Linked DNA regions of Homo sapiens: region 1 is linked to region 2. The links come from fine-mapping of genetic effects on gene expression. A gene starts in region 2. The other region holds a variant in brackets. All regions are shown on one strand. Distances are between the middles of the regions. Region 1 overlaps CEACAM7 (CEA cell adhesion molecule 7). Region 2 holds the start of CEACAM4 (CEA cell adhesion molecule 4).

Evidence for each region. PIP is the estimated chance that this variant, and not a neighbour inherited with it, causes the effect. A credible set is the group of variants that fine-mapping cannot tell apart.
Region 1: its variant is the best candidate, but not a certain one, in a credible set for the expression of CEACAM4 in lung (TOPMed, PIP 0.52).

Annotation. Positions count from the first base shown.
Region 1 is chr19:41,675,753-41,680,149 of GRCh38, reverse strand. It overlaps CEACAM7 (CEA cell adhesion molecule 7), which reads left to right. Exons shown (of 5, transcript NM_001291485.2): 4 at 2,647-2,774. The coding sequence ends at 2,738. Among named protein-coding and RNA genes, the nearest start is that of CEACAM7, 10 kb to the left of the region's middle. The variant T/C (reference allele first, on the strand shown) is at 1,969.
Region 2 is chr19:41,624,419-41,628,815 of GRCh38, reverse strand. It overlaps CEACAM4 (CEA cell adhesion molecule 4), which reads left to right and starts at 1,742. Exons shown (of 7, transcript NM_001817.4): 1 at 1,742-1,916; 2 at 2,856-3,215. The coding sequence starts at 1,853.

The sequences.
Region 1 (4,397 bases), 51 kb before region 2:
TGTAAGTGCATAGGAATACAACTGTTTTTTGGCTGGATGCAACGGCTTACACATGTAATCCCAGCACTTTGGGAGGCTGAGGTGGTCAGATCATTTGGGGTCACAAGTTCGAGACCAGCCTGACCAATATGGTGAAACCCTGTCTCTACTAAAAAAAAAAAAAAAAAAAAAAAAAAAAAAATTAGCCAGGTGTGGTGGCACACGCCTGTAATTTCAACTACTTGGGAGGCTGAGGCAGGAGAATCATTTGAACTGGGGAGGCAGAGGTTGCAGTGAGCCGAGATCATGCTACTGCACTTCAGCTTGGGCAATAAAATGAGACTCTGTCTCAAAAAAAAAAAAAAAAAAGAGAGAGAGAGAGAAAGAGACAGAGAAAAAAGAAAAAAGAAATACAGCTGATTTCAACTGATTTTTGCATGTTGATTTAGTATCTTGCAGTTATACTGAATCTGTTTATTAGTTCTAAAATTTTGTTTTAATCTCTAGGGTTTTCTACATGTAAGTTCCTGTCATCTGCAAAGTTAATTTTACTTCTTTCTGATTTGGATGTTATTTTCTTTCTTCTTGCCTACTTTCTCTTACTAGAACTTTCAATACTACATAGAATAGAAGTGGTAAAACTAGGCATTCTTGTCTTGTTTTTATCTTAGAGGGAAAGCTTTCAGTCTTTCTCCCTGGAGTATGATGTTAGCGTTGGGCTTTTCAGATAATGCCTTTATTATATTTGAGGTAGTTTCCTTCTATTTATAATCTGAGTGTGTTTACTATGATAGAATGTTGAATTTTGACAAATGTTTTATTGGTTCAGTCTCCCTAGTAGTTATTAGTCTATTCAGATTTTCTGTTTCTTCATGGTTCCATTTGGAAGGTTTTATGTTTCTGGGAATTTATTTCATCCAGGTTCTCTAACTTGTTGGCATATAATTATTCATAATACTCATAACACTTACTATTTCTGTAAAATTGGTAGTAATCACTTTCATTTCTGATTTGAGTAATTTCTATCTTCTCATTTTTTTTCTTAGTCGATCTAATTAAAGGTTTTGAATTTTGTTGAACTTTTTTGAAGAACCACCTTTTGGTTTCATTGCTTTTCTCTATTGTTTTTCTAGTCCACTCTAATCTTTATTATTTCCTTCATTGGCTAACTTTGGGTTTCATTTGTTTTTCTCCTATATCCTTAAGTTGTAAAGCCAGGTTGTTGATTTCAGATCTTTCTTCTTTTTAAATGTATGTATTTATAGTTATACATTTCTTGCACAAGATTCTTAACTTCTCTGAGCCTTAGTTTCCACAACTGAAAATTGCAATAAGAGTGCCTGTTTCACAGTATTGTTTTGAAGATTTAATGTAATAATCAATGAAACATTCAGCAAAATGCCACATGCAGAGGAACTGTTTCATAAATGTTAGCTGCTGTTAAAGCTACCATTATTATTAGCCTTGAAGTCAGGTAGTCTTAGAGGCAAATCCTAGATCCGCCTGTCACTAGCTGTATGACATTGGGTAAGTTTTTTCACCACTCTAAGCCACCTCTATTTTCTACCTGACAGTATTATTTTACAGCTCAAATGAGATACATGTAAATAATTTAACACAGGGCCTGACACATAGGAAGCACCCCTCAACAGTAGCTAATATTAGTGATTATTAATCATCAGTCTGAGTTGACTGATGACTGATGAGAAATTAAGCCCAAATTATTGCAACAGAAATAAAGAAGAAACAGATGCAGAAGGTATTATATATACATGTGCATATATATATTCACATATATACACACATATACATATACATATACATATACATATACATATACATATACATATACATATACATGGGAGAAACAGGCATTACACAAAAAGTCCACTGGGACATGGTTACTGATTAATATGGGAGAGGGAAAAGAACAGAGTTAAATATGAAGTCTCAAGCCTAGTATGTTAGTTTTCATTCAGAGAGATGCAG[T/C]CAAGATGGGATTAGACATGCAATATAATTTTGAGGGAAAAACACCTGTGAGGGAAAGTGGGCTGGGAGGGGGAGGAGCCTGGGAGAGCCCTCAGATCATGATGCAGATGTGATGCCTGTGGAGGAGAAAGAGAAAAAAAAGAAAGTTTTAGATTGCAGTGCAGTTCGAAGAGAGTTTCTGCAAGACTGTTGGGAATTCCTCAAGCCCATCACCTTTCAGAGCAAAATAGTCTTGCAGAACTTGACTTGCTTTCACACACCTGCTGGGAGCCCATGGGAAGTGAGGTCTCTGTGCAAAGGAGGTGGTGAATTCAAAATGCACTAACTGCCACAACTGAGACACTAAGAAAAAAAATGCAACCATGAAAAAGTGGGAAGTTTTAATGACATACAAGATTAGCAATCAGTCTTTCTCAAATTTCAAAGCCTTCAAAAATATCTGAGTGTAAAAAGGTCAGGATGGAATTGACAGAAGACTGACCATCAACCTGGAAACCTGGTGAGATAAAAAACCTGCAAGAATTTAGTTGGATAATCATCTCCCAGCAACCTTCCCACAAAAATAATGTATTCCTTGAAGGAACAAATAGAAACGACTTCATGCTGAGAGTTGGTTCCTGGGGGACTTCCCTGTAAAATAAGATCAACTTCATTCCTTCTCTTTTCTTTCCATGGCAGATGAGTCAGTACAAGCAAGTTCACCTGACCTCTCAGCTGGGACCGCTGTCAGCATCATGATTGGAGTACTGGCTGGGATGGCTCTGATATAGCAGCCTTGGTGTAGTTTCTGCATTTCGGGAAGAGTGGTAGGTATTATGACCTTTCCTCTTATCCTATTTCCTGCAGGGCTGACTGCCATGCTTGGGAGAGGGAAAGGACTTCTTCACCTGTATCTGGGACTAGATCTCCTCCTCCTCCCACTAAACTCCTGCTTCTAAGCACTAATTCCTGCAGGTCTCTTCTTCCCTGGTCTTCATGCTTCCTGTACTCCACTGTCTCTTAGACATGACTACTCCCAGCCTCTGCTCATTTGTTTCCCCAATTCAATACATTGTGAAAGCTTCTTGGTCCTTTTTAAAACATCTTTCACTTGTGCTGTTCTCTCCATTCCCATAAACCTCAACAACTGCTTGAAGTCCTGCTTGACTTCTTTTCTCTAGTCTGAATGCTTCCTAGCATATGACTACTTCATTACCTTCCTAAAATCACCTACTGAAGAACCTGCAGCGGCCTACTCTAGCCCATTAGATAAGTTCACATTTCTTCTCTTCATGAATCCTTTTTACTTCCTTTACCACTACTCCTGAGTATAATTTCTCCATCCTAATTAGATCTGTCTTCCTATACATCCTGCCCTTCCACCCCATGTACACATAGAATTCTTAGTTCCAATGTTATATCTAAAAACAAGGTAACCTTCCTCCACCACCTGCATTGTGGAGTTACCCACACCCTTCATCACAAGCAACCTCTGTCCTTGTGGAGGACAAAGACGGTAGCATTAGTATGTGAACCTGAGACTCAGGACACAACCTAAACGTGGCTGAGAATCTTTTCCTGATAACCAATTCATGTGTTCATGAAAGATACAGAAATGAAGAAGGCAAGGTCCCTACTCCAGGGAACATAAAGCCTAAGACAGACGATAAGACAAAGGGCCAGGTGCATTGGCTCACAACTGTCATCCCAGTGCTTTGGGAAGCTGAGGTGGGAGGATCCTCTGAGCCCAAGAGTTCAAGGTTGGAGTGAGCTATGATTGTGCCTCTGCACTCCAACTTGGGCCACAGAGCAAGACCCTGTCTCCAAAAAATAAGACATGAAAAATAATTGTAATACCAAAATAGAAAAAGATAAATTCCACAAGAAGAAAGAGAAATCTAATGGGAAATATGGCTACACACTGGAATCACTGGAAAATTTTTAAAAGAACAACTGATTTCCAGGCTCTGCTCATACATTTTGATTTAATGGTCTAGAGTGGGACCAAGGCGTTATTATTTAAGCCTTCCCACATGCTACTAATGTGCAAGCAGGATGCAGAACCCCTGCTCTGATAAGCAGGACTTGGGCTTAAATCAATGGTTTGTAGCTAGGGGTATGTATCAAAATTACCTGGGGAACTTTTTCAACATACATAAGCTTATACATTGTTGGCCATATTTGTTAATGTACTATGCCCTGAACTCAGTAATCCAGTTGAGAAACAGAAGCGAGATGGAAATTCACCTTAATTGATATGTTAAATTATATGGAAAACACTGTCAAATGACAAGTGATGCCAAACCTTCTCTAAGTTATATTTGCGGGTATGTTATTGATGTGAATGTTTCAAAAATTATATGAGATTTCTAGAAATCTAATATTTTGTCAGTCATAGTGTTACATGCCACAGAAATAACCAAATTTGTTTGTGAGTGGTGTCATTATCA
Region 2 (4,397 bases):
CTGACACAAACTCCGGATATTCGATCCCAGGTGGATCTTCCACCAGGGCAGAATGACCACAAGAAAGTCAGGGAGTGATTCCCCAGCCTCGAGATCCCCAGTATTTGGGACATCTGCCTATGGTCCCTGCAGACATTTCACCAGGGGATCCAGGGGAACTTCTCCTGCAGGAGGGGACAGGATAACCCAGGATCTGCCTTTGTTTCCATCTCAGAGGGACTGAGGGTCACGGGGCCTCCCCTGCTCTAATACAGGAACCAGGTATCCCTTGCAGCCTGCAGGTAGGAGCTGCCCCAGCTCCTGGGCCCTGTGGAGAGGCCTGGGGCAGGTGACAGACAGGGACACAGATGACCTGGAGGCGGAACTCCCAGTGTTGTGATGGAGGAACACAGAACACACCGAGGACCACCTCCCAGGCCAGTGCCCTCTCTCTAAACCCCCAGAGACACCTCCCTGGGCCCTTCTTTTGAAACCTTGGGGACGGATGGCTCTTTCTGAGGCAGCCCATCCGCCTGCAGGACAGTTCTCCCAAATCAGGACCAGGAGTGCTCTGGACAACTCTCGTCCTCTCCCTGAGCTCATCCTGCACTGCATGGAGTTGGACATCCTGGGGACCCACAGTGAACAGGACCAAGGATGACCTGACCCTGCAGTCTGGAGGTCAGAGCCCACCTCTGCCCAGGGGCCAGGGCCAACTCATACCACGTGGACCCTGGTCAGCATCCCTGGGGAAGCCCCTGACTTTTACCACAGGGTTCCTCTTGCTCTCCAGGGGCAACATTGCACGCAGACAACACAGGAAATGGATTCCCCTGGACAGGAATCTGGCTTTGCTAAGGAGGTGGAGGTGAAGCCTGGTTTCCATACTTTGCTCCAGCAGGCCCTTCCAGTCCCTCCCATGTGCCTGCTCTGTCTCTCCTGATCCTTCCTGGAGCCTCTGAGGATCCTGCTCTGCCAGGATTCTCTGCTCAGTTCTCCACTTTCTCCTGGTATCATGCATGGGGAAGGTACAGTGACAACAGGACAATCACCTTCACAGAGGACAGAGGCCACCCGGGATGGTAAGGGAGAACATGCACAGGCCCTAAGCCACAGCTCAGCCAACAGAAACGGAGAGGGAGGATCTCCCTGAATCCCTCCTCAAGGACAGCAGAACCCAGAGCCACCCACCTCCCTCCACCACAGTCCTCTCTTCCCAGGACATGCAGGACACCTCCCTCCACATCCAGGAGCTGGGGATCCTCCTGAGACCCCCAGGCCTGGATCTCTGTCCCTGGGTCAGAGGCAAGGCTGGTGACACTGGAGAGAGAGGACTGGTCCCCCCCGTAGTCGCCCCCCATTTTCTATCCCACAGAGCCACCTCTGTCACCTTCCTGCTGGGTATCATCTCACACTCCCTGAGTATTGGGGAGCATGAGGAGACCTGGGGGCCCAGCTGGGTCTCTGTGTCACAAAAGGAAACAGTTCCCCAAGTTTGGGAGACCCCAGAGTACCTCTGTTTGTGGTGACATTCCCAAAGGGTCAGTGCAGGGGTGACAAGTCACCCTCTCTGGGGACAGGGGACTCCACCAACCCTGCTTCTCAAAGTGTGGTTAGGAAACTGTAATGTACACAGAAGAGAAAGGGGAAGGAGGGACAAAAAAGGCAGAAATGAGAGGGGAGGGGCAGAGGGGTGACCTGGGAAGAGCCCCGCCTCTGCCCCTGGCCCTGGGAAGTGCTTCTGCCCGGGAGGAGGCTCAGCACAGAAGGAGGAAGGTCAGCAGCCCCGACAGCCGACAGTCACAGCAGCTCTGACAAGAGCGTTCCTGGAGCCCAGCTCCTCTCCACAGAGGACAAGCAGGCAGCAGAGACCATGGGCCCCCCCTCAGCCGCTCCCCGTGGAGGGCACAGGCCCTGGCAGGGGCTCCTGATCACAGGTGAGGGGAGGACTCTCTGGGAGTGGTGGGAAGAGGGAGCACAGAGACTGACTGGGGTCTCTTGGGTAGGAGGGGATAGAGGGCTTCTGGCTGGGGTCTCCTGGGGCTCTGAGAGGGGACTGAGGGCCTCTGTTGGAGGCTGGATAAGGGAGAGAACATCAGAGAGGGGCAGGGGTCACAACAGGAAAATCTCAGTGAACTGGAATTGGTAAAAGGCAGGAAAATCTCAAGTGTTCTCTCGTCCTGGTTAATCATCACTGGCCACTACATTTTGAAAAATGATAATAACTATACCAGATGACACTTCAAATAAAAACATAACCAGGGCATAAAACACTGCTCTTAGCCAACAACCTCAGACACTGGGAAATAAACCTCAGGACTTGGAGGCCCTGAGAATGCTCATGAACTCATCTACAGGAGTCTGCAGCCTGTGCCAGGCACTGGGGTGCAACCAAGATCACACAAGTCCCCGCCCTCACAGAGCTCACGCTCTCATGGGGAGGAAGACAAACACCTAAAGAGATCTAGAATGTGAGGTCAGGTGCTGACAAGAGCCCTGGAGGGAACAGAGCTGGGAAAGGTCAGAAAGGGAAGACCCAGGGTCTCTAGAGGAGGTGTCAGGGGAGGGGTCTCCCAAAAACACCCTGATGTGAGCAGGATCTGAGGGCAGTGGGGAGGGAGCCGTGCAGACCCCTGGGGAAGAAGATTCCACCAGGGAAATGCCAAGGTCCAAGCTGTTGAAGGAATGGGGGTCATGCTGCTGACCCAGGGACACACACACACACACACACACACACACACACACACACACACACACACACACACACACACACTCCAAGGCTGAGGGATGAGGAGACCTGCTGAGGACCCAGGGCCTTATCTTTCCATCCCACTCCATAGGTCCCAGTATTGACTGATGCTGTCTTCACCTCCTAGCCTCACTTTTAACCTTCTGGCACCCGCCCACCACTGTCCAGTTCACTATTGAAGCCCTGCCGTCCAGTGCTGCAGAGGGAAAGGATGTTCTTCTACTGGCCTGCAATATTTCAGAAACTATTCAAGCCTATTATTGGCACAAGGGGAAAACGGCAGAAGGGAGCCCTCTCATTGCTGGTTATATAACAGACATTCAAGCAAATATCCCAGGGGCCGCATACAGTGGTCGAGAGACAGTATACCCCAATGGATCCCTGCTGTTCCAAAACATCACCCTGGAGGACGCAGGATCCTACACCCTACGAACCATAAATGCCAGTTACGACTCTGACCAAGCAACTGGCCAGCTCCACGTACACCGTGAGTGATTCCCCCATACCTCTGGGTGCTGGCGGTCAGTTCTGCTTCACACACATGAGATTGTCAGGCCTGGGCTGTGCCTGCATCCCCCTCTGCATTTTGTCCCGTGTTGAGATTTGGGCATTTAGTGCAGGACACACACATGGTAGGTAAACTTCAACAGATCAGAATTCCTTTCCTGCATCCAGGCCCTGCAGACACTGATGGCGGGGGCGGGGGGGCCTCAGCAGGGGGAGGTCAGTCTCAGCCAAGCACCCCATGCCCTCCCCATGAACCTGACCCTGAGAAAGACCCTGGAGAACTGGGTCAGGGCCTGGCCTGAGGGCGTCCTGGGAACCTCACAAAAGCCCAGCCTCAGGACTCCTGACTCCGTGTGACCCCGGGAAGCCTGTGTCAGGGCTGGGGTGTGGTCTCCTGGGCAGGGCTTACTGGGAGCAAGGATTTACCAGATGTCTGCGGGCTGTGGTTCCTGAAGCTTCTCATCAGTGAGGGCTCAGCTCCCAGAGTCTCATCTAGACAAGGACAGAGCCTACCACTTTCCCTGGGACTCAGCCTGGAGAGGGCAGGGGGACAGGATTACTAGGGCATTGGCCCCCTGAATGAGGAGCTTAAGAGATGCCCTTGGGCAGTCAGTGGCCCAGGGGTAGGAACAGAGGGGAGAAAATGTTCCTGGCAGCTTCTTGTCCACCGGGGATCATGCCCAGGGGTGCTCTCCCATGGAGGCAAATAACAGATGCTGTTGATGTGAACACCTCCTCTGTGCCAAGCTTCATGTCAGATCCTGTGAATAATTTAAAGTTCATTCACAGACAAAGTGGCAAGCCTCAGACCATTTTCCATTTACATATTGTATGGAGGGGAAACTGAGGCACAGAGAGATACAGACACCGGCCACGGTGGGCAGATCGCAGCTGGCAGAGTCACATGAGGGCTGTCTGCAGCTGCTGCCACGTCCTCTCCTTCATCCCTGGTGCCTTACTAGGTGTCTGTGGACCTCAGAACAGCCACTGGTTCGGATGTTTTCTTCTTAGGTGTCTACAGCTCGGAGGGGGAGATTCTGGTCTGGAGAGTTATGAGTAAATACAGAATTAATCAGTTTTTTCTTAACTAAATCACCTGCCTCAACAATCAGTCAGTGCTGGGGAAGTTCAGGCCTCCTCGCTCAGGTCCACACCCCGCATC